Homo sapiens: one gene and its partner. The protein of the gene in region 2 purifies or fractionates together with the protein of the main gene of each other region. This does not show direct contact. Each region holds a gene or a part of one and is shown on either strand. Other genes may lie near its edges.

The links.
Region 1: the proteins of RGS1 (region 2) and ACACB purify together in Homo sapiens (affinity purification with mass spectrometry; 2 studies listed by BioGRID and IntAct, with this or other methods). This does not show direct contact.

The regions. Positions count from the first base shown.
Region 1 is NC_000012.12:109,111,821-109,128,996, reverse strand, and holds the start of ACACB (acetyl-CoA carboxylase 2), read right to left. Parts: upstream 12,411-17,176; 5' UTR 12,293-12,410; intron 10,344-12,292; exon of another isoform or gene 10,213-10,343; intron 4,852-10,212; exon of another isoform or gene 1,402-4,851; intron 1-1,401. UniProt on the Homo sapiens protein: Mitochondrial enzyme that catalyzes the carboxylation of acetyl-CoA to malonyl-CoA and plays a central role in fatty acid metabolism.
Region 2 is NC_000001.11:192,565,881-192,582,808, forward strand, and holds RGS1 (regulator of G-protein signaling 1), read left to right. Parts: upstream 1-9,892; 5' UTR 9,893-9,912; coding exon 9,913-10,049; intron 10,050-10,404; coding exon 10,405-10,485; intron 10,486-10,893; coding exon 10,894-10,955; intron 10,956-12,341; coding exon 12,342-12,505; intron 12,506-13,256; coding exon 13,257-13,442; 3' UTR 13,443-14,144; downstream 14,145-16,928. UniProt on the Homo sapiens protein: Regulates G protein-coupled receptor signaling cascades, including signaling downstream of the N-formylpeptide chemoattractant receptors and leukotriene receptors. Inhibits B cell chemotaxis toward CXCL12.

The DNA of each region.
Region 1 (17,176 bases), on a different chromosome or scaffold from region 2:
GTGTCCAGGCCACAAATAAATAAGCAATGTTTATTTGTCAATTAATAATTTATTAAGTTGACCAGACACAGTGGCTCATGCCTATAATTCCAGCACTTCAGGAGGCCAAAGTGGGAGGATTGTTTGCGCCCAGCAGTTCAGGACCAGCCTGGGTAACATAGCGAGACCCTGTCTCAGAAAACAAATTAATTAATTAAATTGGGAAAAAAAAGTCCATCTATTATTGCTTTAAAAAAAAAAAAAAGAAAGCAACAAAAGTACTTCTGTAGACTTTGGGTTCTTCTTGGAAAGACTTTTGGGGAGATAGCTATGTTCTGCCCAAATAAAGAAAAACTTTTAAAATTAAAATCTAATTACTGACTGGGTGCAGTGGCTCACGCCCGTAATCCCAGCACTTTGGGAGGCTGAGGGGGGCAGATCACTTGAGTTCGGGAGTTCGAGACCAGCCTGGCCAACATAGTGAAACCCCGTCTCTACTAAAAACACAAAAAATTAGCTGGGCGTGGTGGTGGGTGCCTGTAATCCCAGCTACTTGGGAGGCTGAGGTGGGAGAATCACTTGAACCCAGGAGGCGGAAGTTGCAATGAGCCAAGATCGTGCCATTGCACTCCAGCCTGGGAAACAAGAGTGAAACTCCGTCTAAAAAATAAAATAAAATAAAATAAAAAAAGTCCAAAAAAATTAGCCAGGTGTGGTGGCAGGCAGCAGTAATCCCAGCTACTAGGGAGGCTGAGGCAGGAGAATCACTTGAACCCGGGAGGTGGAGGTTGCAGTGAGCCGAGATCACACCACTGCACTGCGGCCTGGGCGACAGAGCAAAACTCCATAAGATCTAATTGCTAGAATCTCAGAATCAGGAAAAGCCACATCTAGAAGGCAGTTCAGAGAGGATACCTTCCGGGTTGGAGACAGACGTGAGGGAGAGCAAAAAGTAAAGAGCATCTGCACTGGGACTTTGAAGGTTGAATAGGAGCTCGCCAGGCTGCCAAGGGAGCAGGACATCTCAAGCAGAATTTACTCTTGGGGACTCTGCCAAAGTTCCTAAAGCAGGAGCTGTGATTAGCAAATCAGCTATGTTGTGAAGGATGATCCTTTAAGATTTTTACATCTGAAGAAGATACGTGACAACTTTTAGCTGGCAGTGGAGGGAGGTCTACCCTCCCTGCGAACTGTAAGACTTGAAAAGGCACACCCCATGGTGTGATCCAAGAACTTCGCCTTCCCCTGCAACTGTGCTTGACGGCACTGGTGACACACCATGCTCCCTTACACCAGAGGAACAAATGTTCGGGGACAGCAAAATAATTGCAACTGTCATCTCTAGGAATCTAGGGAGTGAGTGTGCTCCCTGACACTCCCTGACTGCAAATACTAAGAACTTTATTCTTTTTTTTTTTTTAGGCGAATTCTGGATCTATCACCCAGGCCAGAGTGCAGTGGCATGATCTTGGCTCACTGCAACCTCTGCCTCCCAGGCTGAAGCCATCCTCCTACCTCAGCCTCCAGAGTAGCTGGGACTACAGGCGTGTGCCACCATGCCCAGCTAATTTTTGGTTTTTTGGGTTTTTTTTTTTTCTGTAGAGACAGGATCTCACTTTGTTGCCCAGGCTGATCTTGAACTCCTGAGTAAGAGCTTTGTCCTAATAATTAATAATACCAATAATGCCTTCCACTATAAGCATCTTGTTTACAAGTATCCCATTTCACACATGAGAATCCAATGTCCAGAGAGGTGGAGTGACTTGTTTGAAGTCACACAGCTTGGAGGTATACATGGCATTCGACCCTGGGCTACCTGACTCTAAAGCTAGATTTGTCATAGGCGGAGGTGACCAGGTCGTTGATTCAATTGTTTAATGGGCTACCCTATTGGATTGGTGGAATCAGAGCCTGAAAAAGACACCCAAAAGAGGGTCAGCAGTTTTCAAACTTACAACATGTCAGAGCATCTGGGTCTTCAGGGAATCCCAGCCAGTACTGCTAGAGTAAGCAAAAGATTACTACATCTCTGGTTTTGTGCCAAATCCCAAACCATTCCATCCTAGAGTACGGGTGTACAGCATTCAAGGCCTCTGATTTTGGAACAACTTCAGGGAGCAAAACATATTTAAGAGAAGCCTGTACATTTCAGCTTCTCCCTCAGCCAGGAAATTACTCAAATGATTGAGTCTCCCAGGGCCCTCTGAGAGTATAGACCCAGAAAGATGCACATCCACAATGCCTGGTACACTGTAGGTGCTCAATTAATGCCTGTTGAGACAAACCAAACTTCTTTTTTCTTTCTTTTTATTTTTTATTTTTTTTGTGTGTGTAGAGACAAGGTCTCTCTCTGTCACCCAGGCTGGAGTCCAGTGGCACAATTGTAACTGACAGCAGCCTCGAACTCCTGGGATCAAGCAATCCTCCTGTTTTAGCCTCCCAAATAGCTGGGACTACAGGTGCACACCACGACATCTAGCTAATCTTTTTTATATTTTGTAGAGATAGGGTCTTTCTGTGTTGCCCAGGCTGGTCTTGAACTCCTGTCCTCAAGCAATCTTCCCACCTCTTCCTCCCAAAGTTCTGGGATTACAGGCATAAGCCACCATGCCTGGTTCAGATCAAATTCTTGATGTGGTGAATCTGCCATCCCAAGCAAAACTGGCCTGAATGGTTCCAGATCGGCCCCTGCCTTGAAGGAAGGTAAGAGGAGCCGTTTTTCCACCTCCAATGGAAAACATGTTCCGCAGTCTAAAGGCCTATCAGTCTGATCTGTCTGGCTAGCCTCTCACTTGAATTATCCCTGCAGAAATTGCTGAAGTCCACTGTTCAGCTCTCCTAAGTTCTGGTCCTTGCCATCTTCACAGGTGGAATCCTATCCTTCTTCGCTTCTCCCCCTGCTGTGCTGTGAATTTGCCTTCTTCAGCCATTCACTCATTCATCAGCAGGTATTTCCTGAGCACCTGCCAGGTGTGGTACACGCTGCTGGAGACATGGAGCAAACAGGCAGGAATGGCCCAGCCCTGCCCTCGTGGGTTTATGATCTCACTGGGAAGCAAATAAAATCACAAACCTGAGGGCACAACCAGGAGAATCGCCATGAACTCGTGATGGATCAGGTTTTGCACCAAAATGTAAGTCATTTTTGAGTGTGAAACCAAGAACCCTCTGGGCGACACAGTGCATTGGTTAGAGCACGAGATCTGGATTCAGGTTCTATTTCTGCTGTTCATTTCCTGTGTGACCTTGAACAAGTTTCCTCACCTCTCTGAGCTTGGGTTTTCTCATGTATACAATGATAAGGAAGTCTTCCTCATACAGTTTTGGAGTTTAAGTAAACTAATACAGATCAAGTCATTGATGAAAGAGTGTGCTACCATTTATGGTGCTCTCCATCATGTACCAAGCATTGCGCTAAGTGATTTACCTAAGATCAAGTTCAAGCCACTGTTATATCTCACTTGGGCCACTGCGAAAGTCTCTTGACCTGTCTCTCTGGCCTGGTCTTGTCCCTCCAGTTCATCATGCACAGAGAAGCCAAGGCGATCTTGTAAAAATTCCACAGACATCGTTAGTGTCCAGATTATAATGTCTCTAAGAACATTTCCCACTGAAAGGAACCAGGACTCCTTGGAGAAATGTCTGATTCTAGGGCTGGGGCAGAAATGTACATGATGAGCTGAGATATCTTCTTGCCTGAAAACAAGGACCCTCCAGGGGCATGGGCTACCAAAGAGAGGCTGCAAACGGATGATGACTGCAGTGGATTGAAACACATCAAAATATCTTTAAAAACCATAAGGTCGTAACACCCCTCAAAACAAAAACAACTCGTTGATACTTTTCATGGCTGCTAGGGCTACTCATTACTCTGAAAATAGACTTAGCCCCGCCCACACACAAAAAAAGGACATAATCAACCATGTACTCTGCCTTTCAGGGACTGTATTTCAGGGTAAGCAAATGCTTGAGGAAAGTCGTGTGGTAGAGAACAATGAGAGTTGGGCCGGGCACAGTGGCTCATGCCTGTAATGCCAGCTCTTTGGAAGGCCAAGGCGGGAGTATCGTTTGAGCTCAGGTTTGAGACCAGCCTGGGCAATGTAGTGAAACCTCATCTCTATCAAAAATACATAAAATTAGCCAGGCATGGTGGCGAGCGCCTGTGGTCCCAGCTACTCAAGAGGCTGAGGCAGGAGGATCGCTTGAACCTGACAAGTTGAGGTTGCAGTGAGCCAAGATTGTGCCACTGCACTCTAGCCTGGATGACAGAGAGAGACCCTGTCTCAAAACAAACAAACAAAACCAGAAACAACAACAACAACAACAAAAAACAACAAGAGCTAATAAGCACAGAAAGATTGACGGAAGTAGAAAATCACTATAGTAACGAAACAATAATCTGGGCTTTGCTCATCAGCAGGCAGTAAAGTCATTCGGCAAGAGGGTGATAGGGAACTTTACGACGGAGGTCAGACTGATACCCTAAACTCACTAATGAACAAAAATCACTAAAAGTGGGGTAACTGAACTTTATGTTCTTGACGTGATGCAAGAGAAAACAGAAAAACACCTTCAAAGTATTCCTGCTAAGGATCTGCACCTGAATTGATTCAAGCCTCTTGACCTAGTACTTATTTATAGGTATAGAAGAACATGTTAGATGACACTTGGAAGATGCAATCAGCCAAATCCAGAATATGGAAAATTCTACGGGACAAATGACCCAGTTTCAATAAGTAACTGGCATTTAATAAAGGGAGTTGCTGATTATTACAGATGAGGAGACTTAAGAGAAACCCTGTGGGTCCTGATTTGAATAAAACCATTCAAAGACATCTTTGAGCCACCTGGAGGACAGTCAGCATGAACTAGGTACTAGATTAAGGAATTATCATTCATTCTGTTAGATAGATATAATTATGGCAATGGTTTAAAAAAAAAACTTGTGTCTTTTAGAAATGTGTGCTAAAGTATTACGGGCAAAACAGTGTGACATCTAGCTGTGAGAATTGCTTGAAAATAGTCTGGGGGCCAGATGCAGTGGCTCACATCTATAATCCCAGCACTTTGGGAGGCCAAGGCAGGAGGATCGCTTGAGCCCAGGAGTTCAAGACCAGCCCGAGCAACATGGCAAACTCTGTTACCTAAAAAATAAAAATTAAAAAAAAAAAATTAGCCAGGCGTGGTGGTGTGTCCCTGTAGTCCCAGCTACTCTGGAGGCTGAGATGGGAGCCCAGGGTAGTAGAGGCTGCAAGTGAGCCGAGATTGTGCCACTGCACTCCAGCCTGGGCGACAGAGTGAGACCCTGTCTCTTTTCTTTTTTTTGAGACAGGGTCTCACTCTGTCACCCAGGCTGGAGTGTAGTGGCACAATCTTGGCTCAATGCAACCTCTGCCTCCCAGGTTCAAAAGATTCTCCTGCCTCAGCCTCCTGAGTAGTTGGGATTACAGGTGCATGCCACCAGGCCTGGCTAATTTTTGTATTTTTTGTAGAGATGGGCGTTTTTCCATGTTGGCCAGGCTGGTCTTAAACTCCTGGCCTCAAGTGATCTGCCCGCCTCGGCCTCCCAAAGTGCTGGAATTACAGATGTGAGCCACCACGCTCGGCCTAAGACCCTGTCTCTTAAAACAAACAAATAAACAAACAAACAAAAAAAACTCTGGAGCTCTAATTAATGACATGCATGTTGAAGTATTCAAGGATAAAGACACTGATATCTGCAATTTACAGGTGACAAATACAGAAAAATGGTAATGGCAGAATCTAATCAGGGGTATATGGGCACCCACTGTAAAATTCTTTCAACTTGTATGTTTAAAAATTTTTTTTTTTTTTTTGAGATGGAGTCTCGCTCTGTCGCCCAGGCTGGAGTGCAGTGGTGCGATCTCGGCTCACTGCAAGCTCCGCCTCCTGGGTTCATGCCATTCTCCTGCCTCAACCTCCTGAGTAGCTGGGACTACAGGCACCTGCCACCACGCCCGGCTAATTTTTTGTATTTTTAGTAGAGACGGGGTTTCACCATGTTAGCCAGGATGGTCTCGATCTCCTGACCTCGTGATCCGCCCACTTTGGCCCCCAAAGTGCTGGGATTACAGGCATGAGCCACTGCACCCAGCTTAAATTTTTTTATAATAAAATGTTGGGGGAATAATATAGGGAAAATGGGTATAGGAAGATGAAACTAGAAGGGCAGAAAGGCAATGGTTATTGAAGCTGGCTGATGAATGCATTGGGGGACCACTGTGCTATTTACTCTGCTTCTGAAGGTGTTAAAAAAAAACAGGTCAACTTTTTTTCCTATACCAAAAAGTTAAAAAGTTCATAAAATACAATGCAAGTACCCACCAGCTGACTGAAACCTGAATATTAATAGCTAATACTTATGAGTACTAATTTGTGCTAGGCTCTGTATTCAGCATCTTTTTTTTTTTTTTTTTTTTTTTTTGAGACAATGTCTGACTCTGGCGCCTAGGCTGGAGTGCAGTGGCACAATCATAGCTCATTGCAGCCTTGAATTCCTGGGCTCAAGCAATCCCCCTCCTCGGCCTCCCAAAGCACTGGGATTACAGGCATGTGCCACCACGCCCAGCGAAACTTTTTATATTTTATACAGACAGGGACTCAAGCAATCCTCCCGCCTTGGCCTCCCAAAGCACTGGGATTACAGGCATGAACCACCATACCTGGCCTATATGAAGCATTTTATAATCATTGTCTCATTCCACCTTGTGAGACCAGTAGCAGGGGAAGCCTCGTTTTATTGATGAGGAAGTTCTGGGTTCGAGAAGTTGAAGTGACGCAAAGTCACTCACCCGGGTAGTAAGCAGATAAACTGAATTTCACCTTTTCAATGATTGCTCACTGCACCCCTTTCCATGGTCTACATGGCCCTGGCAAACCGGCCTCTGCCACACTGACCCCTCTACGTTCCTCTGCACATGCTGCCTGGAATGTTCTGGAATGTTCTTCCCTTCCCTGCCCCCACTTCTGTCCTTTGCATGGTTATCTCTTGCTCTTTTTCTGATGGTTGGCTTCAGTGTCCCCACCTCAAACCCACCCTGATACTCAGTGGTCTTATTCTGTAGGACACGTGCCATTCATCACGTGCTGACCTGACTCTCTGCATTCACCAATGAGTTTATGCCTCTTCTCCACTGGAATAGAAGCTTCCTAAGGGCAAGGAGTGGCTCTGTCTTGCTCTGGGCTCTCCAGCACAGTGCCTAGCACACAGAAGCGTCAGGGTCAGTGAACACTTGCTGGAGGCCTGCACCCAGCTCAGGTGTGTCTGTGCCACCCCCACCCCTGCTGCCTACCTGGGGAATCCTCCTGCTCCACTGAGTCCTTGGGGCTGGGAGTGTCCAGGTGAGGCCCTGGGCACAGGCATCTGCACGGCTGTTGAACCCCTGCTGGCTGCTCCCTCATACTGCTGTATCAGGGGCCACCAGAGAGATGCCATGGAACACCATGCTCTTGCTCTATGCCCCACAGTTCCCTGATCTCTTCCTCCTGGCACTCATCATAGGTTGTAGTTATGTGGGTCATTATTACACATCTACCAGTGTCCCCCACTAGAAGGTAAGATCTGTGAGAGCAGGCAAGGCTTAAAACCCAGAGGGGCACAGATTTATCATCAATTTCTGACTTCATCTCCCCCGACCCCTTCCCCAGTCTATTTGCAACTCTGAAAATAGGGTTCTTTTGTAACTCCAGTATACACTAGGAGGCATATAGTAGTCCCTCAAGGAACCCATAAAAGCATGTTGAATAAGAATGAAAGCTGGCAGGTGTGGTCTCTCATGCCTGTAATCCCAGCACTTTGGGAGGCCTAGGCGGGCAGATCACTTGAGGTCAGGAGTTCGAGACCAGCCTGGCCAACATGGTGAAACCCTGTTTCTACTAAAAATACAAAAATTAGCCGAGTGTGGTGATATGCACCTGTGGTCCCAGCTACTTGGGAGGCTGAGGCAGGAGAATCGCTTGAACCTGGGAGGTGGAGGTTGCAGTTAGCTGAGATCACGCCACTGCACCCCAGCCTGGGCAACAGAGCAAGACTATGTCTCAAAAAAATAAAAAAGAAAGCTGATGTTTGTTGAGCACCTCCTACACACTGAGTCTTATGCTGTGCACTTTGTGTGTGTTATCTCTTTAAATGTTCACAAAAATGATAAGATGAGGCACAGAGAGAAAGTCTGTTGTTCAGAGTCACATCAGTGAGTGGCAGAGCTGGGCCCCGGGCTGGGCCCTCCAGCTCCAGGTGTGCACGTGTGTGGCACACGTGTGTGGGTGTGTTTTCTTCATCCCTTCCCCTACGCCCACCATTGCCTCACTCCAAGGCTGAGCTAGTGCAACAGCCTGTTAGCAGATCTCACTGAATCAATTCTACTTTCTCCCTGTTCAAATTCATCCAGAACCCTGGGAGACAGTGCTCTATTTACACACACACACATACACACACACATGCATGCATACACACATGCACACACACACCCCTTGCCCCCTGCTCAAGAGCTCGAGCCTGTGAACCTCATCCACTCCATGGTCCTGCCTCCCAGGATCCTGCAAGGAGATGAGGAAGGCATGGAATGAAACGGTTCCATGTTTTGCAAGAGGTGGCTATGAATACCAATCCTGAAAGATGGTCCCCACCCTTGCCAAAAAATAACATTTCTAGGGCCAAATCCCAATGTCACATCTTGGAGAGTCCCACTGCATTTAGCATAGTAAAGGCTCTGAGAAGTCCTGCTGTAAACCACAGGCAGCCTGGTGTTTCCCAAACTGATTGGCCCTGGAGGCCTGTTTCCACCTTGCATGGGCAGCTCTCCATATCAGAAGAGCTCCAAAAGCCTCACTTTGTGGGGAGTATGGAAATAAAAGACCGAAGCCTTCCTTATAACACAGCAGAGAAAGCCTTCTAGGTCAGTTGGGAGGGGCATGTCCAACAACTGATTATTCTATAATAGCTAGTATTGAAGTCTGCAGCTGATTTGCTTCTAAATAGAAAGGAGAGTGTGTTCAAGTTGTCCTCTGATATCACCTTCACTCATTATTTAATTTAAAAATATGGAGCTTAATTAGTTCAACAGGAGTGGTGGAAAATCCTTTAATCCTTTTTTTTTTTCTTCTGAGATGGAGTCTCGCTCTGTCGCCCAGGCTAGAGTGCAGTGGCGCGATCTCAGCTTGCTGCAACGTCTGGTTCCCAGTTTCAAGCGATTCTCCTGCCTCAGCCTCCCAGGTAGCTGGGATTACAGGCGCACCACCATAACTGGCTAATTTTTGTATTTTTAGTAGAGACAGGGTTTTGCCATGTTGGTCAGGCTGGCCTTGAACTCCTGACCTCAAGTGATCTGCCTGCCTCAGCCTCCCAAAGTGCTGGGATTATAGGCGTGAGCCACCCAGCCCTGTCTCAAAATCATTTTTTTTTTTTTTTTGAGACAGAGTCTTGCTCTGTTGCCCAGGCTGGAGTGCGGTGGCACCATCTCGGTTCACGGCAAGCTCCACCTCCTGTGTTCAAGTGATTCTCCTACCTCAGCCTCCCAAGTCGCTGGGTTTACAGGCACTAGCCACCACACCCAGCTAATTTTTGTATTTTTAGTAGAGAAAGGGTTTCACCATGTTGGCCAGGTTGGTCTCAAACTCCTGACCTCAAGTGATCTAGCTCCTCAGCCTCCCAAAGTGCTGGGATTACAGGCGTGAGCCACTGTGTCTGGCCTGAAGAGACCTTTTCTATGTGTAGTTGTTTTCTGGGGCCCCAGCAAGGGTCAGAGTGGCTAAGGTATGAGCCCAGAGAGCAGGACTTCTGGAGTACAGCAGACTTGGGTGGAGGCTTTGCCATTTGTTATCTGATTGGCCTGAGCCCATCATGGAAATTCTCTGAACCTTGGTTTCCTGGCCTGTGGAATGGAATAAATAAAATCTCCTTCCTAGGATTGTCCTCAAAATTATGTGAGATCCCATAATTATTATGGCATACCTGGGGTATGCCAACTACCCAATAATCAATACCTTGGTTTCTCTGCTGTGCCCAGCCTGGATTCTCTGATACAAGGATCCCTGGATTCCTGGAATAAATGAACACGGTCTATCTTCCTAGAAAATCACCTTACTCTACGGTCATAAATTTACTATTATCACTGCAAACAGAGAGATCTATTAGGATAGGATGTGAAATGTGCATACATTTTTCCGATCAAATGCAATATTTCTAACTCTGTTTCCTGGTTTCCCTGGGTACAGGTGAACTCTACTTTGAAGTAACAAGTCACTGAATCACAAATTCAGAGGAAGCATGAGAACAAGGTATTCCAGGCCGGGTGCAGTGGCTCATGCCCGTAATCCCAGCACTTTGGGAGGCCAAGGTGAGCAGATCACTTGAGGTCAGGAGTTCGAGACCAGCCTGGCCAACATGGCAAAACCCCATCTCTACTAAAAATACAAAAATTAGCTGGGCGTGGTAGTGCTTGCCTGCAATCCCAGCTACTCGGGAGACTGAGACTGAGGAATTGCTTGAACCTGGGAGGCAGGGGTTGCAGTGAGCTGAGATTGTGCCATCGCACTCCAGCCTGGGTGACAGGACGAGACTCTGTCTCAAAAAAAAAAAAAAAAAAAGAACAAGGTCAAAGTTTCTACTGGGATAAGACTTCAAGGAAACCTCCATTTCAAAAGATTAAAATGTTTATTTCCCCATGAAGACTGGGTATCTCATGTAATGTAATACTCAAATTTCTGTCTCAGACCTAAAGGTGTTGAAAGTATGAGCGAGTTTACACAACACCTGAGCAGGAGCAAATAAAACTCTTAAGAGCTTCTGAAAGAAAGTTACAGATTAGAGATATTTTCATCTCTAAATCACATGAATTAGGATTGGCTGGGTCTTTCCACTTAAAACTTGGAGAAGTCATAAAAAGAAATCTTGTAAAGAACTCCATGTCACTATTAGCAGAAACATGCAATTTATAAAATGATATCTTTGGCCAGGCGCGGTGGCTCATGCCTGTAATCCCAGCACTCTGGGAGGCCGAGGCGGGCGGATCACTTGAGGTCAGGAGATCGAGACCATCCTGGCTAACACAGTGAAACCCTGTCTCTACTAAAAATACAAAAAAAATTAGCCGGGCGTGGTAGTGGGTGCCTGTAGTCCCAGCTACTTGGGAGGCTGAGGCAGGAGAATGGCGTGAACCCAGGAGGCGGAGCTTGCAGTGAGCACTCCATCTCAAATAATAATGATAATAATAATATCTTCACCTTTCAGTTTTTAAATTGCAAGTCCCATGTCCCGGGAATTCCCCGGTCCTGGGCAAAGTGGGATGGTTGGTCACCCAACCTATATGGATGCCCATTGATATTAAAAAATAAAAGTAATCACAATAGACATGAGGGAGAGAGTTGTGTACAGTGTGAGTGTACAGAATAAAAGGTCTGGGGGGTTTATACCAAAATGTGCACAGTGGCTACCTGGAGGAGGAGGGTTAGACAGGAATAACAGCAAGGAGACTTTTGCACGGTGCTGAGTGACTTTTTAACTTGCATATTATTTTGGAATGCATTTTTTCAACATTGAAAGAAAGTCATGTCTTCCTAGAAATATAGGATATAGGACCACTACAAACGCTTTACTCTTAGTCTCCTTTTTTTCTTTTTCTTTTCTTTTTTTTTTTTTTTGAGACAGAGTCTTGCTCTGTCAGTCAGGCTGGAATGCAGTGGCGCAATTTTAGCTCACTGCAACCCCCACCTCCTGGGTTCAAGCGATTCTCCTGCCTCAGCCTCCCAAGTAGCTGGGATTACAGGTGCCCATCACCACATCTGGCTAATTTTTATGTGTTTAGTACAGATGGGGTTTCGCCATGTTGGCCAGGCTGGTCTCGAACTCCTGACCTCAAGTGATCCACCTGCCTCTGCCTCCCAAGGTGCTGGGTGGCATGAGCCACCGTGCCCAGCCTTAGTCTGCTTTAAAAAAAAAAAAAAAAAAAAAAAGAACAACCATTTGAGGAAACAGAAACAGAATACTATTCCTTAAGACAGTAGCTTTGGAGGCAAAAAACAGAATTGTTTATAAAACGTTGTGGAACTTATATGGGAGCATGTCCAGGGATCCACACCACCATTTATAGAAGCAAAGAAAGGCCCTTCTCTTTCATCTGCGTTACATTTCGAGCTCTTCTGATTAGCTTCCTTCAAACATGACGGGAGTCGTTTTTCCCCGGGGACCCCAAGTGCATGCCTTCAGACAGGGTCTGCTCTCACTATACATTGGGTTCGAATTTACCTGGACGTTGGCAGAATGGTCCGGACCCCGGGGAGGGGCGAGCTGACTTACCACTTTATTCCTGCCGCTTTTCTCTTGCCATGTCCTCCCCACCGTGCATTCAGGGTTACATTTTCCAGGTTCCTTGTTTGCTGAGGGCCTGAATCTAAGCCTGCTAGCTGCTTACTCTGGGGACTGCAAATGTCACTTTTAGATTAATCAGCCCCTGCTGTTTAAAAATATCCCTGGAGCACTTAACCTTCAAAGCAGCAACAACCCGGGGCAAAGATGAGAAAGATCCCACGTCAAACCACTTGTGCAGCCCTGGCTACTCCTGGGAGAGTTCTGCTATCTGCCTTTTAATCCCATAACTCGCTTTATTTCATAATTCTTAGCTGTTGAAGCCATGAGGCATCTAAAGTCCATGTTGTCGTAAGCAGTAGGCAGAAAGTCATCTGGGCCCTCCTGTGACATGCTGAAAATTAACTGCCTACAGGTGTTGGTCATTTGAGAAACAAGCCCCCATTGAAAACCGTGAATGGGAAGGTGATCGCTATCAGGTCACCTGGCTTCTCTCCCCTGAAAAGATTTGGCGAAACCCTCTCAAATCACGCCACTTAATGGAATGTTTCCAATTTCTTGTGACTTGGGGATAAAAGAAAAAAACAGCTCCATTGCCACATTCTCATTCAGGGTTGACTGGCTCTTGCTAGGGTTGAGCACAGAAGAGGAAATTCAGCACACGCTGCAGTTACATAGTGTTCTGCAACGTGGGGAGGGCTGGCATGTGGGACAAAGGTCGCCTCCAAGGCCCAGCTGGAGAAGCCCAGCCAACTAGGCAGCAGGAAAGTGGAGACCACATAGGAGCACATTGTGCTCAGGCAACAGGGAAGGTGGAACCCACTTCCTGCCAACAATGATGGCCTTACTAAACAGCAAGTGGAGAAACTGGCGAGAGCGCTGAGCACGGGATCTGTGCAAAATGGTTTAAATGGAAATTGCTGCTGGGGCTGGTGCAGCCTGTTCACAGCTACTTTGTTTCTGGGCTTATTTTGCAATAAGGAACAGTCATTGAATATTGGACTTCTTGGGATTTTCTCCACTGGACTTGGAAGCATGTGCTCTGGAAACCTCAGCATTATCAGCTGTAACCCCACAGCACCAGGTACATGTTACAGGAACCGGGGTGAAGGAATGCAGGTCAAATGCCTGCACAATGCCCGGCCCGAGTCATATGTTCTCTAGCCACAGTAGCCCTTGTGATGGCTCTTAGTCTATTTATTAAGACAATAAAAGAGGTGACTCTCAAACAAACCTATGTTTCCAGGGAGAGCCATCTGTGATTCAAGGACATTTTTATAAAATTCCATTGAAAAAAATTCTTAGGCTTCTAACTTCATGAAAAAAAAATTCTTTCCCAGTGATTCCAAATAATCATGATCTAGGCAGGGTGTTGACAGTGGCAGGACTATTAGGCTTTGAAATCAAGCTGATGTGGGTTTGAATCCTCCCTCCATTAGCCATGACTTTGAGCAAATGGCTGAGCTTCAGTGTCCTCATCAACTACTTCACCATATGGGTGAGAAAATGAAATGATTTATATTGAGTTTCTGGCACAGGGGCTTGCTCATGACAAGCACTTAATATCTTTCTAATGAAATTCATTACTTGCAAAAAGACTAGACATACCCACACATACAGGTGAAGAACTCTGCAGTGATTCAGTTCTCCCTAGACACTATCTCTTTAAGACACAGGTATTTTCCAGAATATAATTGGAAGGCTTGAAACCAAAGTTATTCATAAACTCTTTCCATCAAACACAAGAACGGTAATAGAAATATATTTCTTCAAACAGCTGTTAGTTTCAGAAAGTCACAGGTATCAAGTTACATTTTTTGTTTTGTTTTGTTTTGTTTTAGAAATAGGATCTTGCTCTGTTGCCCAGGCTGGATGGAGTGCAGTGGCATGATCATAGCTCACTGCAGCCTCGAACTCCTGGGCTCAAATGATCCTCCTGCCTCAGCTTCCCAAGTAGCTAGAACTACAGGCACACACCACCCCTGGCTAATTAAAAAAAAAAAAATTTTTTTTTTTTAAAGACAAGGTCTCATTATGTTGCCCAAGTTGGTCTTGAACTCCTGGCCTAAAGCGATCTTCTTGCCTTGCCTCCTAAAGCACTGGGATTACAGGTATGAGCCACTGTACCTGGCCCAAAAAAAATTATTAAGTGACCACATGGTCTAACAAAACAAGGCACCTGGAAAGAAATCACCAGTCCTGCTGCAAACCGGACCCTCTGTGAGAATTCACATGCCTTCCCCCACCAATTAAATCAGAATTTCCAGGGATGGGGTCTGGCTTTGCATGTTTTAGCTTCTCTAGGCTGGAGGAGCACTAGCTTCTTGTTGGAAGGCTCCCTACCTTCCTCTCCCACACCCTCACCCCAAACATCATTAAGAGAGACAAAAGAACATGCTATATACACAACTAACAAGCAGAGAACATAAATTATTGATCTCCTGGTCTGCTCCGCTCACCAATATTTATATTTCCAAGCATATTTCAAAAACTTAAAAACTGGTTCCCTAGCCTGGGCAACTTAGCAAGACCCCATTTCTATTAAAAACTTAGCCAGGTATGGTGGTGCATACCAGTGGTCCCAGCTGCTCAGGAGGCTGAGGCAGGAGGATCACCTGAACCCAGGAAGTTGAGGCTGCAGTGAGCCATGACTGAGTCACTGTACTCCATCTTAAGAAACAGAGTGAGACTCTATCGCAAAAAAAAGAAAAAAAAATTGGTTCCCATTGACTTAAACTACAAAGGAACTTCCTGTTGTCAGACCCAAATTACAGTGTCAGAAGGACTCTAAACAAGGAGGCCATCTCCAGCAGAGGAATGTTCTAGCTTTCCTCAGCTTGAGTCAGCACAAGTCAGCATGTGAGGTCTTTTCAAAGTAACCCAGAGCACCTCCCTGCAACCTGTTTTTCCTTGCAAATCTTGAAGGTTTGGCAAGGATGAAAAGCCAACACCACACGCATACGCCAAAAAGTTTGCTTCTCCACCAAACATACTTGCGAAGACTTTTATATGAGAAGCAAACTGAAGCAGAAAGTGAATTTGAACAGAGATGTATTATCTAATAATGCAAGCATACTAGCAACATGCTAAAGTCTATCTTTAAAAAATGCAAACAATTTATAGTCCCTGACCTTCCCCTGCTGGATGTAGATCAAAAGCAGGCAGTGACTTTCACACAATTAATTATTTTATAACTGGACGTTTCCAGTACAACATTTGCTAATAACTGACTTCCTTGTGTTACCAATTCCAAAAGCTGTCAGAGATCTCCCTAACTCACCTGAAAAGGGAGGAAACAGGAATCATTAGGCCAGGTTCTCAGAAGCCTCCCAAACCTTGCCACGTGGAACCATCCAGCTCCACATCCAGCATGTGGGTCCTGCCTTTGCAGAGGCAGGCTCCTCAGTGTTGAATGCTCTTGTTCCTCTTTGTGGCCTGGAAAGTTCAATATCCACTCAGACATTCTCTCCACTGGGAAATGTCTTCTTTCCTGGGCTGACCCAGCCGTTGCTGCCTTTTTGTTCCCACCGCACTGACAGTGAGTACACACAGGGGTCTGCAGACTGTGGTTCCAGATGCCTGTTTTCCAATAGCTCCCAAGCTAGGAGTGGTTTTTACATTTGTTAAATGCTTAGGAAAAAAAAAGATTTCGTGACACATGAAAATCATATTAAAATCTAATTTCAGTGTCCATAAATAATAAAGTTTTATTGGAACACAGCCTCGCCCGTTCCTGTACGTTTTGCCCACGGCTGCTTTCTCTGCAGTGAGTTGTTGAGCAGTTCCCACGGAGAACGGGTAACTGCAAACCCTCAAATATTTACCACCTGACCCTTCACAGAAAGTTTGCCAACCGCTGACCTAAAAGGCTAAGACTGCCTTTTATGCATCTTTGCATACTGAGTGCAGGAATATAGCAGACTTGACACATGAAAAAAGCAACTACCACATAGCTAAGAGTTCATCAAAATGAGTTGCCTGGTTGGTTTTTTTTTTTTTTTTTTTTTGAGACGGAGTTTTGCTCTTATGCTCTTGTTGCCCAGTCTGGAGTGCAATGGTGCGATCGCCCGGGTTCAAGTGATTCTCCTGCCTCAGCCTCCCAAGTAGCTGGGATTACAGGCATGTGCCACCACGCCTGGCTAATTTTGTATTTTTAGTGGAGACAGGGTTTCTCCATGCTGGTCAGGCTGGTCTTGAACTCCCGACCTCAGGTGATCCACCCACCTCGGCCACCCAAAGTGCTGGGATTACAGGCGTGAGCCCCCACACCTGGCTGAGTTGCCTAGTTTCTAAAGAATCAGTAATTAAATTTTTGGAGGGTCATGGACCCAGAAGCTGCTCTGTGTACTGTTTAAAGTGTCACCACATGACTAAAGTTCAATATATACACATATATATTGAATATATATACATATATACATACATATATATTGAATATACATACATATATATTGAACTTATATACATATATATTCAATATACGTATATTGAACTTTTGTATATATTATATAGAAATGTATGTATATATATTTAAAATATACATTTTATATTTTAAAATATAAAATAATTGTGTTTTGAATTATTCCTGGAAACTTGGAGCTCACTGCTCCCCCTACCGGCAGTGCTGCACCGGGAGAGAGAGAAGTGTGAAAAGCTAACTGGTGTAAGCACAATTATCCCTTCACTTCTTCCTTGGCTAAGGGAGTCCACTGTTGTTTAGAGGAAGATCCCAAAGTTACCAGAGGGCAAATCGACCATGCATCCTCCTCCCGTGAAAGCCAGCTTGCTGACCACAAAATGTAGAATGATAAACCCTTCCCTACATAGATAAGGAAAGGAAGCAGTATTTTCAAGCAAACTCTGGTCTCCCTCCCT
Region 2 (16,928 bases):
AAAGAAGTAGAAAGAGGAGACTGAACAGTGTTTCTGAGAAAGAAAAAAGCCTGGATAATGTCCTTCTTACTACATAGTGCTGGGCATAGTTTTAATCATTGGTTAATTATTGGTTAACCATTGGTTAATATCAAGTGTTATATTGGATTAGGCATGGCTAAAATAGACTTTAATTTGATGTAATCATAGGTACTTTTATTCAACTTTCTATGAGATTACAAACACCTTTGTCATACCCTCATCTCATAGCAGTTGTGCAATCAAATGGTTTTAGAGCTATCCACAGCTTCCCAGGCCTTCCTTCTCTAGACCAACTGATATTTGATTTGAAAGTTGGGTATGGTTTCTGCCAGAAAGAAGAGAGAGAGAAAGAGGCAGAGAGAGAGACAAAGAGAGAGAAAGCCTCAATGTTTCAAATCTATTTCATGATTACTTCCGAAGTGATCTTTTGTGTAAAACACACAAATTTTCTCATAAAAGAGAAGTGAAATTGTGACATTTTCTATGGTATTATTCTACTGTCTTGGAAACTGCCCCAAATCGGGGAAATTCTGTATAAAGGGGGAAAATCCTAATGGACTGATAATTTTTAGGTCTTCTCAGCAGCTTTTAATTTTCCATGAATGGTGTATAATGATTCATCTAAAAATAGGAAAGATAAATTATGAAATGTGACCATCTACAAGGTTAAAGAATGTGATTTCCAGGATTGAAGAGGGTCACATAATTCCTGATACAAGTGCTGTATTCTGCAGTGGTTTCAGTCTTGTTGAGAATCAATCAACAGTTGTTCTACAGTGAACAATGAAGTCAGGAGAGGGACAGATCAGTTTCAGAGATTGTCCGGACGTTCTCAGCCCCACCATGACATTTCCAATCCTTATCCCATTCTGGCCTCACTTCCCCACTTTCGTGCACATATCAACCTCCTGCCCTCATTTAGTGCAAGCATTACTAATTGCCACACTTTGTCTGTATTGCTCACTCTTTCACATGGGGCAACAGAGATGCCTCAACCTTGCCTAAGCAAAATGTGAGAAAAGAAACCCCAGGCTAGAAAAATGGAACAAACTCCCACACAAAATAGGCCTCTTAATATTTCTATACACTGTTTTTGGTATGTTAAGATCTTCCTGTTGCAACTAAGAGCCTGGTCTTAAGAGAACCAATATGGGGATAAGCCACAAAGTCACAAATAAAACATCAACTTCAGATGAAATAGAACTTAAAACGTTGCAGTGACTACAAAGAGAAGACAAAAGTTACCTGATCTTCACGAAGAAAATAACAGTTTATAGCAGTTCATAAATTTATATTTTCTGATCTTCCATAGCATCTGAAACAAAACATAAAACAAGATTATGAGTTTGTTCTGTCTTTGAGTTCCTACCAAATATATTGCCCTGGTTTTCTGTTTTCATAACACAATAAAAAAAATAGGCAAGACAAAACACACAGGAGGAAAAAACATGGGTAAGAAGAGATTGTTTACACTTCAGGATTCTGCTGCCTTTAGAAGTGCAAAATATAAGCTTCACAAGTTGCTGACAGTCATGTTTCCCCAATTTGTAGCTGACTCTGGTCTATAGCAAATTCACAATTTACAAGCATTCTAAGTCCCCTACCCCCTAGTTCAGTCTTAGCTGATCTTTGAGGGGTTAGTTGTTCAACATTTCCTTTTATTACTTAAGGTACCCAAGGGTATTCCAGTTATCTTCCTATTTACCTAAGCTAATTAACAGTCAATGTGGGGCTGCTGACACTTGCAGCTATGGAAATCCTATCTAAAACAACAGACAACTCAATATTCCTCCACAACAGGAGGGAGCTGGATAAGATCTGCAGTTGGGAGGGATCAATATCCAGCTATAAGTACCTAAGAAAAAGCAGGAAAATTAAATTGAAGTTGGAAGGAATAGTCTGTGACATTAACATCTGAACATACATTTATACATTTGATTAACATATTAATTTACAGAAATCAACTAACTAAATAAAAAAGGAAATCCAAGACAAGTAAATATTGATAGGGAAAGAAGCAATCTGGAAGACTGGCCCAGTGAATGCAGAGTTGCAGTGGTAAGAGTAGCCCTGCATTTGGAACAGGTGGATTGCCAAATTTACTAAATTTTAGGAAGAAGTCTAGGCAAAGAACTCTAACATCATAAGAAAAATGGAAAACATCCTAGCTATGGCAAATTCTGTCTAAATCTTAATTTCTCTGGGGCTAGTTTTGATTGGTATAGAATTTCAAAAGGAGATCTTCCCATGCCACTACCATAGCTGCAAGTTGCTGATGATCGCCTTTGACTTCTACACAAAGAAAACTGAAAAGAAGTTAGCTGATTTGATCAAACTCACACAGCAGGAAAAGGTATAGCTGTGAGAATTGGCTCACAGTCTTTTGAAATGTGAGATTTCAAAGCAGCAAGATGAACATGTCACTGGGATTCAACAGAATCAAAGCCTTTCATTTATTTTTTAAAATAGAATACAAATAAGATGGCAGACAAGGCTTAATAAAAAAAAAAAAAACAGAACAGACACAGAAAACAGTGGAACACCACAGACCACTTGTACTCACAATAATAGTAGTATACTGCTAAGCATGGACACTATCTGTTGACTTAGAGCTACTTTCTCAAGTAGGAAGATTATTACTACAAACAAATGTCCGGTAAGTCTGACACCAATATTTAGTAAAATAATAATAATAAAATATATAGGTATATATATTATATACACATATTATATAAATGTATACACTTTATATATATAGATATATGTAAATAGACATAAAAGCAAAGCATTAGAAAGGACATGAAGAAAGTGGAGTTAATGTGTTTGTCAGCAATAACTGGCATGGTTTTGGAAAGAACAGAACATGTCAGGAAATCTTGAGAGATTTTTCTAAGAAAATTATATAATTAATGAGGAAAAGCAAAGCAAATAAGTCTCTATTGTTAGCCACCTCGATGTTTAGTAAGAACAAAAGCAAATGAAATCACTGGAATAGTGTTATTAGAAACTTGGAAAGTTAACAGTCATTTATTGAAGTTGCTCTCTAATATTTAAAACATACCTCTGTATTAGGCCATTCTTGCATTGCTATAAAGAAATACCTGGTACTAAGTAATTTATTTTTTTAAAAAAGAAATTTAATTGGCTCATGGTTCTGCAGGCTATACAGGAAGCATAGCACTGGCATCTGCTTCTGGATAGGTCTCAGGAAGCTTCCAATCATGGCAGGAGGTGACAGGGGAGCAAGTGTCTCACATGGTGCCAGCAGGAGCAAGAGAGAGAGGGTTGTGGGGAGGGAGGTGCCACACTCTTTTAAACAACCAGATCTTGAGAGAACTCACTCACCATCATGAAGATCCTCCCCCATGAGCCAATCACCTCCTACCAGGTCCCACCTCCAACACTGGAGATTACAATACAACAAGAGATTTAGAGGGGACACATATCCAAACTATATCAATTCTGCCCCTTGCCCTCAAGCCTCAGTTTCTTCTCACACTGCAAAATACAAGTGTCCCTTCCCAACAGTCCCCCAAAGTCTTAAGACATTTCAGCATTAACTCAGAAATTCAAAGTCCAAAGTCTCATCCGAGACAAGGCAAGTCCCTTCCCCTTATGAGCCTATAAAATAAAAAACAAGTTACTTACTTCTAAGACACAATGGGGGTACAAGCATTAGGTAAACATTCTCACTCCAAAAGGGAAAAATCAGCCGAAAAAGGGGGCTACATGCTCCATGAAAGTCCAGAACCCAGCAGGGCAGTCTTTAAATCTTAAAGCTCCAAAATTATATCCTTTGACTCCATGTCCCACATGGAAGGCACAATGGAGCAAGGGGTAGACTCCCAATGCCCTGTGGATGTTTAGGGTGCAGCCCAAGTAGCTGCTCTCACAGGTTGGAACTGAGAGCCTGTGGTTTTTCCAGGCACAGGGTTCAAGCTGCCAGTGGCTCTACCATTCTGGGATCTGGAGGATGGTGGGTCCCTCCTCACAGCTCCACCCGTCAGTGCCCCAGTGGGGACTCTGTGTGGGGGCTCCAAAGCCACATTTTCTCTCCACATTGCCCTAGTAGAGGTTCTCTGTGAGGACTCTGCCCCTGAAGCAGGCTTCTGCCTGGCTACCCAGGCTTTCTTGCACACCCTCTGAAATCTAGGTGGAGGCTGCCAAGCCTCATTCACTCTTGCACTCTCTGTGCCTACAAGGTTAACCACACATGGAAGCTGCCAAGTTTTATAGCTTGTATCTTCTGAGGCAGCAGCCCTAGCTGTATCTAAGACCCTTTGAGCTGAGTCTGGAGCCAGAGCTGCCAGGATGCAGACAGCAGTGTCCTGAGGCTGCACCTAGCAGTGGAGCCCTTGGCCAAGCCCACAAAACCATCCTCCTAGGCCTCTAGGCCTGTGATGGGAGGGATTGCCCTGAAGGCCTCGAAATGCCTTTGAGGCCTTTCCCCCATTGTCTGGGATATTAGCACTTGGCTCCCTTTTCCAAGTATCTCTAGTAAATGGTTGCTCCACAGCTTGCTTGAATTCCTCTCCCACAAAAGCTTTTTCATTCCCTATCACATGGCTAGGCTGGAAATTTTCCAAACTTTTTTTCTCTGCTTCCCTTTTAAATAGAACTTCCAACTTGAAGTCATTTCTTTGCTTTTACATATAAGTGTAGGTTGTCAGAAGCAGCCAGGCCCCATCTTGAACACTTTGCTGCTTAGAAATTTCTTCTGCCAGATACTCTAAATCATCACTCTGAAATTCAAACTACCACAGGTCCCTAGGGCAGGGGCATAGTACAGCCAGGCTCTTTGCTAAGGCATAACATGCATGACCTTTGCTCCAGTTTCCGGTAAGATCCTCATTGCCATCTGAGACCTCCTCAGCCTGGACTTCATTGTCCATATCACTATCAGCATTTTGATCATGACCATTTAACCAGTCTCTAATAAATTCTAAATTTTCCATCATCTTCTCGTCTTCTTCTGAGCCCTCCAAACTCTTCCAACCTCTGCTTGTTACCCAGTTCCAAAGCTGCTTCCACATTTCAAGTAACTTTATAACAGTTCCCCCCTCCTCAGTACCAATTTTCTGTACTAGGCCATTCTTGTATTGCTATAAAGAAGTACCTAAGACTAAGTAATTTATTTAAAGAAAAGTGGTTTCATTGGCTCACGGTTCTGTAGCTTGCACAAGAAGCATAGAGCTGGCATCTGCTTCTGGGGAGGTCTCAGGAAGCTTCCAATCATGGCAGAAGATGAAGGGGGAACAGGTGTCTCACATGGCAGGAGCAAGAGAAATAGTTGTAGGGGACAGGGGCCACACTCTCTTAAACAATCAGGTCTTGAGAGAACTTACTCACCATTGTGAAGACAGCACCAAGCTATGAGGGATTCTCCCCCATGATCCAATCACCTCCCACCAGGCCCCATCTCAAACATTGGGAATTACAATTCAACATGAAATTTAGAGAGAACACAAATCCAAACTATATCACCTTCCTTTCCAAATCCTCTACATGCAGATATTTGAGCACCTCCATCATTTTTGCATTTATGTCATTGTTATGTAACAGAACATTCTATCCCAACTCCAAATAATGTGTCAGTGTTCATTTAGCATAGCTCTCCATTTATTTGGGTTTGGGAATAAGGCACCTCCTTCCATACTTACGAAATTTTATTTGCAAAGCACAGTCTAGAGTCAGACATAACTACTCTCTCTTGTTGAAAGGATTATAAGTGATAGTGTGACATTAAATGAAAATAAATCCAATATGGAATAAGTATACCAGAGATAATATTATCAAAAGATTTCCTCAGTGCTTTCAAGAATGTCTTGGAACACGGGCCTATTATCAAGAACTTAACTGGTAAAATTAGATTTAGGGTGAATGAGGCTTATTGAATCACATAAGCTCAGTTCACTGAAGGTCCCACATACTATTTTCTTGTAAATTCTCAAATTATAGAAAGGAGGCAGTCAGTGTTGACTGAAAGATTGGAGCAGAGTGAGAAAAAGAAACTAGATTCTTATCTTGCTCAGTTGCACTTACTGAGATCATTGAAGTTTAGTGTGTTGCATATATTTGCTCTTATTAAAACCCATCATATTTCTTCACAACAAAATCATAAGCAAGTCTAAAATGTTTAAACTTTTCATTCACACGATATAAAGTTTTCACCAACCCTCTATACACATACAGAGAAAAATCCTTCTAAACTCACTTTTGTTGCAGCTTTTTCAAATTTTCAAATAAACTCTATGAAATTTAGCTGAAACACTTTTAGTAGCCTTATCTATAAACCTTGAAGACCAAGGAAGCTCTGAGTGGTTATGCTAATTCAACTAAGTCATTCAGAGTACTTTTGAAAGTTTGCAAAGCTTTGTGAGTACATATGGGATCCATTTTTCCATGATCCTTCAACATAAAACTGGTCTCTTACTAGAGACCAGTTTCTCCATTGCAGCCATTTGAACTTTCCAAGGGATGCTAAACACAAATGCAGAAACAAGCAAAGAATAGATACATGTTGATTTTACAGTAAAGACAGCAGTACTTTGCTTCCTTTCTCATACTTCCAGAGGTAATTACTCCTCTGTGTTCTTTTCTCTGTACATTCCTCTCTGATGGCACCTCTCACAAACATCTGTCAGCCCCACTACACAGTGAACCCCTTAAGACAGAGATTCATTCATCTTTGTATCTGCAGTGCTTTATGTGTGATACACTGTAGGGATGCAATTAAACTTTGTTGAATCGAAACATTTTGTTTCAATGGATCAAGCTATCTTTCCACGTCACTGACTTTTCCAGTATGGATACATTTTTATTTTAAAATAGAATATTATACTCATCATTACCCCTTGTCTCACAATTCTAATATCCACAATAAGATTTTAGCAACATTTTAAAAGTTCAAACAACATCAGGTTTAAGGAAAGCACTCCCTATTAGTATTCCAGTAATTGGAGTAATTGAAACCAAATGTTTCCATTCAAATCAGTTCAGCAAAGATTAAAATTTTCCTTATTTTTCCTATCAATATCAACAGCCATAATCTGAAATGTCTTACTGAACCAATCTCCTAGGTATTTTAAAATATAACACTGGGATTTTTAGGGAAGGAAAAGTATTCTGTATGGTACTATAATGATGGATACATATCATGATACATTTGTCAAACTCATGGAATGTACAGCACCAAGAGTGAACTCTAATGTAAACTATAGATTTTAGATGATAATGCTGTGTCACTGTAGGTTCATCAATTATAACAAATATTTCACACTAACGAGGTATGGTGCTGGAGGTGGAGCTGGAGGCAAGGTGAAAGGTGGGGAGTTGTGGGAACTCTGTACTTTCCACTCAATTTTACTGTAAACCTAAAACTTCCCTAAAAATGAAGTCCATTAATTTTTCTTTAAAAAAAAAGATAACACTAAGACTACATGAAGTATTCCTTTTCCTAGAAACTCAAACCTAGATGTTTTAGCACAGTTTCAAAGAGGGAAAACTGAAACCCAGATCGTGAGACCCACTGTTTCTTCTACTGACGTTTTTGAAATCCTCTACTATTTCAACCAAAGTCATTGATTCAATAAAGTTACAATTTGACAGTTTATCTTTTCTTAGTGAAGTTTACAAAGAGGGGCCAGATAGTGGCACTCTCTTTAAAATTAATAGGGAACTTTCAATGCCCTGCCATGCACTTGTCACACTTGCTGATACAACTTGACCAAATTTGCCTTGTTCTGGAACACACAGACTTTGGGTGGATGAGCAAACAGCCTCTGAGAGAGCAGCTGCTTTATTGCATGACTAAGGTGACCTCATCAGCCAATTGTGATACAGGAATTTTGAAAGGACTCCCTCTTTCAAGAGTTTATATTTCTATTCAAGTGTGGAAGCATGCAGTTGTAAATGCTTGCGCTTCAAAATGTATATTGGGATAGGGGTAGCAAAATGTTGGGAGCATCAGAGCAGTTCCTAAATACACTACAGGCAAAAACTTATTTTGATCTCAGACCAGAGTTTCTTAACATAGTGTCAAAAAAACACATTATTTCAAAAAACTATTTTCCCTATCTAAAGAGGGTTTAGTTCTTTAACAAGTTAGGAGTCCAACATTTCCCAAACTTACTTGGCCCCATAATTTTTGCTGCTGCTCTTGTTCTTTGGAAACTGTCAGTATATTTGGATGATAATACTAGTGGGCTGTTAAAAATAATTTTTAAATCATTTTACTCTAACATAACTTACTCACAATTATTTAGAGGAGTGAGAGGATACTAGATCAACAAACATGAGCAATGTTGAAGATTTTAACAGGAAATTAAGTATGGACTGAACCACAGGAAGTATACAACCAAATGCCTTTATGTCATCTGTCTTTGAGTTTCATCGGTCTCATTAGGGTCACTTCCAAAGTGGCCAGCTCATCTCACCAGTTATCTTTCTTAATGCCTTATGTTATCTTCCCAACATAAAATGATGCTTGTTACATACAATATAATGAGCTCATTATAATGAAATTAATGACTGTGTATAAGTGAATTTTATAATATTGTAAATGTGTTTTCTTCAAATATTCTTTATCCTGACGATAGAACCAGAACAGAAAAATTAATACTCCCCTCCCTTTTATCAGCTTTACCTAATACCATCAGAAGCTTCACTAAGTAAATGCTTTTTTGTCCTTTTAAAGGAAAGTATTGTCCTTCCAGGGGTAAAATCCAAGGAGGCTTAAGTTAAACTGGGTACTCTATAAATAAGCCACACTTGTTATATAAACTTTTGAAAGCTTATATTTTACTAACTTCTCTATCCTTATAAATGATTAGTCATCTAGTTCCTTGAGTTTTGTTTGTGTTTTAAACTTTAATCTCAATTAAAGCTAAAACTGTTATCTCTCCAGAGATACTGCCAAAATGTGAAAGATCATTACCTAAGAAGTACACATTATTGGTCTATCCAAATAGACTTTTATTTTACCTTGAGCAGTTTTTCCTCTGATACTGTGACCTTGGTATCAGTATGTTTACAAATTATGTCATATTTGTATACAATTAAACATTTATTTATTTATGATTGGTTTTAATTAAACTTTATTTTTTCCTAATATGCAAAATATGCAAAAATCAAAGTTTGATATACTAGTTATATTCTTAATAAATATGAAAATAATATTAAAAACCATGCACCCCTTAAAATCATCCTATGTATTGCCAGTCGATGTCTAGCACACACCTTGGAAAATATTAACATGGAAATTTCCTGCCATGGAAATAAGGGATGAGAATTGGAGTGGGAAAATGTGAAGATAGCCTCTTATAACTTTCCCTCCTATCAGATATGTGCAAAATAATTAAACAAAAATTATTTGTTTACTTTGCCCTGCTTCCTGCAGAAAAGAAGAGAACTCTTAAAATATTTTGATCAGATGAATTTTATAGTCAAGGACTATCCAAAGCATGGAGTAAGATACAACTCTATGTGATGAATTTCTATGTGAGTTTCTATATGATAAATTAATACGCCAAATGAAACAGTTTATTGAAACATGCAACTTTTTTAAAATAAACAAACATCCTCCAGAACCAAAGACTGATGCTGTTAATGCTTTAGACATGTGACATATGTGTGTGTACCTCTGTATGTTTAATTTTCTTTCTTTCTAATCAAGTGACCTGTTCTCGTTTGGTTAAGTTTCAACCACAAGACACCACTGTATGCTTTTTTTTTTTCAAGATACACGTCACAGCACACCAAGAAAAGGGGAACTTCCAGTGTCTGTGGTAACATCACTTGATAAACAGACTCCTTTAAACAGCAAGTGCCTGTCTGCATTCTACTATATAAAGCAGCAGAGACGTTGACTAGCGCATATTTGCTAAGAGCACCATGCGCGCAGCAGCCATCTCCACTCCAAAGTTAGACAAAATGCCAGGAATGTTCTTCTCTGCTAACCCAAAGGAATTGAAAGGAACCACTCATTCACTTCTAGACGACAAAATGCAAAAAAGGAGGCCAAAGACTTTGTAAGTTTGTTCAGAGTCTCACTTTGTGAATTTTAACAAGTTATCTTTAATGGCAGAAGGATTGAGAATGAATGGAAGAGAGTGTGAGCATTTAGTTTAGCCAGATCAGAGGAGTTAATTGCCTGTTGTGAGTAATAAGTAATATTCAGCTGCATTAAAAAATAAATCTTGATATGGCATTAAATTGGGTAGGAGTTTTTCTCTACACAGGCTCATAAAAATGGGTTCTATAGCAAAATGTTGTATCAACCATTTTTAGTATTGCCTTATTCCTTAGAGAAATTTATTCTATGTCTTTTTACAAATAAAATGAATTCTGAAGAAATATGAATATTCACTTTTATGTCTTTTGTAGTGGAATGGATATGAAAGCATACCTGAGATCTATGATCCCACATCTGGAATCTGGAATGAAATCTTCCAAGTCCAAGGATGTGTAAGTACACTAATACACTAAACTATCATTATCATTTACAAGAGAAGCCTATGCATTATCTCTATATCCCAGCAAGGGATAAATACTGCGCACAGTAGACTTCATTTCTTTTAAGTAACATGCCAAATAAAATTAGACTATCAGTACCAATGTAAATTGAATACAAATGTGTACACACACATATTGGACTTTATCTATTTGGATTTTTTCAAATTTTATTGGCAGGTTTTTTTTTTCATAACTATAGTAACTCTAAGGGAAGTTTTGCATTTTGTGAATAAATTTTAACATATTTATTAGAACTACAGTTTCAGTTTGTGAAGTTATCAAAGTGTAACAGCCATTCTTATTTCATTTGTGCTTACATTTTAAAAATTGACTAATGTATGTACATTTTGTCCCCTGCAGACTTTCTGCTGCTGAAGTAATGCAATGGTCTCAATCTCTGGAAAAACTTCTTGCCAACCAAAGTAAGTATAACTATTGAATGTTTCTGGGTTCAGCTAAATACTCTAAAAAATTGAATGGCTTCACTAAATATAGTATTCTGGGTAGGATAGTATGCAAAAGGTTGTATTCTAGTTTGTCTGTAGTTACTGATAACTTCAGCATAGTATGCCTCTTAATAATGCTGACTTAGCACTCAATTCTGCCAACTCCTTTTAGACAAATTTGCCAAGACAATTAGGTATTTTCATAGATCATTATGGAGATAAAATTAAACATTGTGCTGGGATTCTGATATGTAAAAATTTTAAAAGTAAGCCAAATATTTTAATATGTACATTGCCATTTTGAAATCTGCCTAAAGAATGTATTTTTCTACACTTGGATGTAACAAGTATGATTCATTCATTCAATTAATTAAATTATCTTTCATACATTCATCATTCATCTCACCCTTATGTAGAGGACATTGTAGAGGTACCAAGGATTCAAAATCAAAGACAGTCTCTTACTGCCTTGAAGGTGGTTGAGATACATAACATAAATAATTGCATTATTATAACATGATAGTTTTTATGACATAAATATGATAGAAGGATTTTTAAGCACATATAGTCTTGTGGAGATTTTCTGATGAGAGAAGGTAAAGAATGAAATCAGCTTGCCATCCCCTTGTCTTGGGCATTACAATTCTACTGAGATTAGGACCTTTTTCAGAGGTGTAGATGAGCAGTGTGGTCTCTATCTCTAAAGAGTGAGATTATTCTTTTCTCCCCACAGACACCCTAAGGAGCTTTACTTGGGAATCACATTGTTCACTCTAGCTCAGCTGACTTTGTTTATAATTCAGCTAAACAAATAAATGGTATAGATATGGACCATAAATGGTGCCATATAAAAGTCTCAGTGAATGCTAGCAAACATAATTAGTACATCAGGCCTACAGATCATATATAGGCCTAACATTTTCTGGCTAATATAAATTAGATGGGGAAATTATATTTACTAATTATTGTGATGTTAATGCCTTTTGTCAGTGTTTGCTTTCCTAAAATACTCTCTACTCTGGCTAAGATTTGGCATATATAAAAGATGGTTTTATATTCAGTGGAGCAGAATTTCAATTCAAACCGCGGATAGAAGCAAAACAGTTTGGTAGCCACCATCAAGTAGCAATGTGACTATGAATGAGTTTGTCTGGCCCCAGATTCCTCTTCTATGAATGAAGAAATTTCAAATGACTTCTCATCTCTACAATCTATAACACAGCTATTTCAGCAGTAGCTGTCTCTTACCTTTGTATGAATAGGAAGCAATTGTATTTTTCTTACAAATTTCTTCTTCAAATTATTCATTTGTTGGTTCATTTAATTTAATTATCTCCCCACCCACCCCTCGTTTCTTTTTAGCTGGTCAAAATGTCTTTGGAAGTTTCCTAAAGTCTGAATTCAGTGAGGAGAATATTGAGTTCTGGCTGGCTTGTGAAGACTATAAGAAAACAGAGTCTGATCTTTTGCCCTGTAAAGCAGAAGAGATATATAAAGCATTTGTGCATTCAGATGCTGCTAAACAAGTGAGTATTAAGCTTATCATCATCAGTTTCTCCATAAAAGACCCTATATGCAGAAATAACATTTAATATATACAACAAGATAAAATCCTTTTGGGGTATATAATTTTACTTCTACATACTTAGGCATATAAATATAGTTCAGTGCAATGAGAATCTAATTTTCTATATTGGTGAGGGTTTCAGCACAGTAGAATAAAGAGACTGATTTTACAAAACCAGCTGCCATGATGAGGGTGAGGGAAGGGTTAAGGGTATTGTTACTGACCAGAACTGCATGTCAGGGAGTCCTTAATGAGTGCTCTTGTTTTGGATAAGAAAATGCAGATTAGCATAATGTATACAATTGCAGCAGCAAAAGTATTTCCAATTAACAGTATTACCAGATAAATATTCTTGGTCCAAGCAGAAAATATCAACAAAAAGAGCCTTCTTCTCCTGTAAATCTTAAATGCCTACATCACTCTTTATGATACATGGATCATCTTATGTGGATACTTAAATTTTTCATGTCTGCTTCTTTTGCCTCTCCTAACTATACTATGAGGAAATTTGGAACAAAGACATTTTTGTAATATTTCTTATCTCCTTCACACCTAGTATAGAGCTGATTTTACAAAGGCATTTAAGAGATATTTGAATTGATTTAAATGAGGCCTTAAAATTACTTTCTGAGGTGTTTCAAAAAACAGTAACATCATAAAATTTGCAGTAAAGAAAAGTATATATTAGCTAACAAGGTTTTCTTTTTTAGATCAATATTGACTTCCGCACTCGAGAATCTACAGCCAAGAAGATTAAAGCACCAACCCCCACGTGTTTTGATGAAGCACAAAAAGTCATATATACTCTTATGGAAAAGGACTCTTATCCCAGGTTCCTCAAATCAGATATTTACTTAAATCTTCTAAATGACCTGCAGGCTAATAGCCTAAAGTGACTGGTCCCTGGCTGAAGGGAATTAACAGATAGTATCAAGCGCAGAAGGAATGTGCCAGTATGGCTCCCTGGGTGAACAGCTTGGCCTTTTTTGGGTGTCTTGACAGGCCAAGAAGAACAAATGACTCAGAATGGATTAACATGAAAGTTATCCAGGCGCAGAGTTGAAGAAGCATAAGCAAGACAAAAACAGAGAGACCGCAGAAGGAGGAAGATACTGTGGTACTGTCATAAAAAACAGTGGAGCTCTGTATTAGAAAGCCCCTCAGAACTGGGAAGGCCAGGTAACTCTAGTTACACAGAAACTGTGACTAAAGTCTATGAAACTGATTACAACAGACTGTAAGAATCAAAGTCAACTGACATCTATGCTACATATTATTATATAGTTTGTACTGAGCTATTGAAGTCCCATTAACTTAAAGTATATGTTTTCAAATTGCCATTGCTACTATTGCTTGTCGGTGTTATTTTATTTTATTGTTTTTGACTTTGGAAGAGATGAACTGTGTATTTAACTTAAGCTATTGCTCTTAAAACCAGGGAGTCAGAATATATTTGTAAGTTAAATCATTGGTGCTAATAATAAATGTGGATTTTGTATTAAAATATATAGAAGCAATTTCTGTTTACATGTCCTTGCTACTTTTAAAAACTTGCATTTATTCCTCAGATTTTAAAAATAAATAAATAATTCATTTAAGATTCTTCTTTCTACCATCTCTTTTAACATCTAAAACTATTATCTAGTGAATACTATATTTTATGTATTAGTTTGGACAGAATTCACAATTTTTCTCTCTGCTATCACAAGGCACAAAATCAAACAAATATAATATGATCTCATGTTCAATAAGAAATTGAAGTCTTTTAAAAAGGGATAGAAAATTTATTTCAAGAGGTAATCTAATTAACAGCATATATTTTATTGTGAGTTAAAGTTCATAAAATCTAGACATATTTTCTCATTTAACATTCATAGCAATCCTATGAAAGCTGAGACTCAGAAAGATTAAGTCACTAGTTCTTAATTTTAGGTAACTCTCAAAATTATCTAGAATGTTAAAAAAACACACACATATCCCTGTTTTGGGGTCCCATACCAGAATGACTGAACCAAATCTCCAAAGGGTAGCATATGGGAATCTATATTTAAAAGAAAGCCCCAAGTGAGTCTGAAGATGATTTTATAATTCAGAGTTCAGAACCTGGGAATTAAGGGACAGTCATACTAGCAGGGATTGCCCAGAAGTCTTCCTACTACAACCTATTCTCCTTCCTCTATGTAACACTGCCACCCACTGATCAGAAGGCATTTCCTGAATCACTAAAGTCTGCAACAGTCCTAAGTGTCACCTAAGCAGGAAAAAAGACTCCAAAGTAGGGCTCACCTACAGAGAGAAGAAAAATCATCAAGATGATGCATATTCCTGAATAGCCTGTACAGCTCTTATCTCCCCGCGCACCTGTGCTTTATATTTTATTCAATAATCAGTCACTCACATATCACAATGAAATACGGTTAATGTATGGATAATCTCACTATGGACTGGTCCAGTCATCAGGCACACAGCAATGGTAAGGGGCAATATGCAGATCAGGTACAAACAGAATTATTCTTGAGTTGTCATGGGACAGAGTTTAAATTGGTTCTACTTTATGCTTTATTCCTGCTTTAAGTAAGAGAAACTTGGGAGTCCAGTGATAATAATAATAATGATAATAAGCATCATCATCATCAGTCATCTCTCTCTCAACTCATTCCATCACCAAATTCTGCCAATAATTCTTCTACAATCAGTGTCTGTGGTTAGAACATCGCTTGCTCTTTTTTATTACCCCATCCTAGTACAGGCTTTCATAGTTTGCCAATTCACATGACATGTTCTTTGTCTTCCCAGTGTCTTTTCTTTAATTTATCCTCTGAACAGCTACAAACATCATCTTCTGAAACACAGATTTGGCCACATCATTTCCCATGACATATAAAATGAAGTATACATGTCTCCCTCTGGGCTTCAAAACCCTCCCAGTGTAACCTTCATGATATAACTCTCATTACTCAACTCTGGGTATCCTTCCTACCTTGAAGTCACACTGGATTATTCACCTTATCTTATATAATTCCAAGCCTTCACTATCTCCAGCCTTTGGTTATGCTCTACTCTCTAAAATGCCCTTTCCTAACCCATTCCGGTTTTCAAAGTTAAAGCAATTCTTCAAGGTTTTGTTTGTTTTGTGTTGGTTTTTGAGACAAGTTTGCCTAGGCTGGAGTACAATGGCGTGATCATGGCTCACTGCAGCCTCAACCTCCCAGGCTCAAGTGATACCCCTGCCTCAGCTTCCCAAGCAGTTTCCAAGGACTGTCACATTAATTATAGTCCAGGCCTTCAAGACTGTGAGGAGCAAGCAGTGCAACTGTCTAACACACTCACCAGTCATACAATAAATGCTCTGGTTCTTCTCTTGACAAAATGCCAAAAACCATTCGATTTTAGACAGAAGATCAAAACAAGAAGCCTCTTCATTTTGACCAAAAAAAAAAAAAGTCATCCTGGTTGCATAGATTCAAAATAATGTAAAATACTTGAAAAGATAAATTTTTATTGTCACTTTTTTTTTTTTGGAGATGGAGTCTCACTCTGTCACCCAGGCTGGAGTGTAAGGGTGTGATCTCAGCTCACTGCAACCTCCACCTTCCGGGTTCAAGTGATTCTCCTGTCTCAGCCTCCCAAGTAGCTGGGGCTACAGGTGCCCACTACCATGCCTGGCTAATTTTTGTATTTTTAGTAGAGATGGGGTTTCACCATGTTGGTCAGGCTGGTCTCAAACTCCTGACCTCAAGTGATCCACCTGCCTCCCAACATGCTGGGATTACAGGCATTAGCCTCTACGCCTGGCCTATTGTCACTTTTTGTTATGATGTGACTGTTTCATTAGATCATTCACAAAATATAATTAGAGCTAGTGATATCTACTATTTAAAAAATTTGATCCAACTGGACAATCTGATTTTCAGTTCACAGGCTATGTTCTTTTGTAATACTAAAGCAATGGCAGTAAACAATAGCATGGCTAAAAGCCAAAAATGTTTTTTAAAATTTACTTTTCTCAAGCTTATTTTGCAGTACTTTAAAATATGCCTATCCCAGAAAGCTATGAATCTATGAAGGTGAAAATGTGGGTAATGGCGTCTCATAAAAATTACATATTTACCCATTTAGTTTACATGGAATGAAGTTCAAGTTTCTTTGTTTCTGTGTGCAAACATGGGCTGTATTATACTAGTAGGAATCTTTGACAATCTATTGTTGAAAATTAAAAAACTAAAATTTGTGAGGGAAAAAATATAGTAAAAGGTGGTTTAAAATGCCATCAATATAAATTATTTTATATAGCTATAGAATTTTTGCAAGACTAGGATGAAAACATCTATAAAACAAAAATCAACAGTCAGCTACAGAAATAACTCTATCCTTTTTGTTGA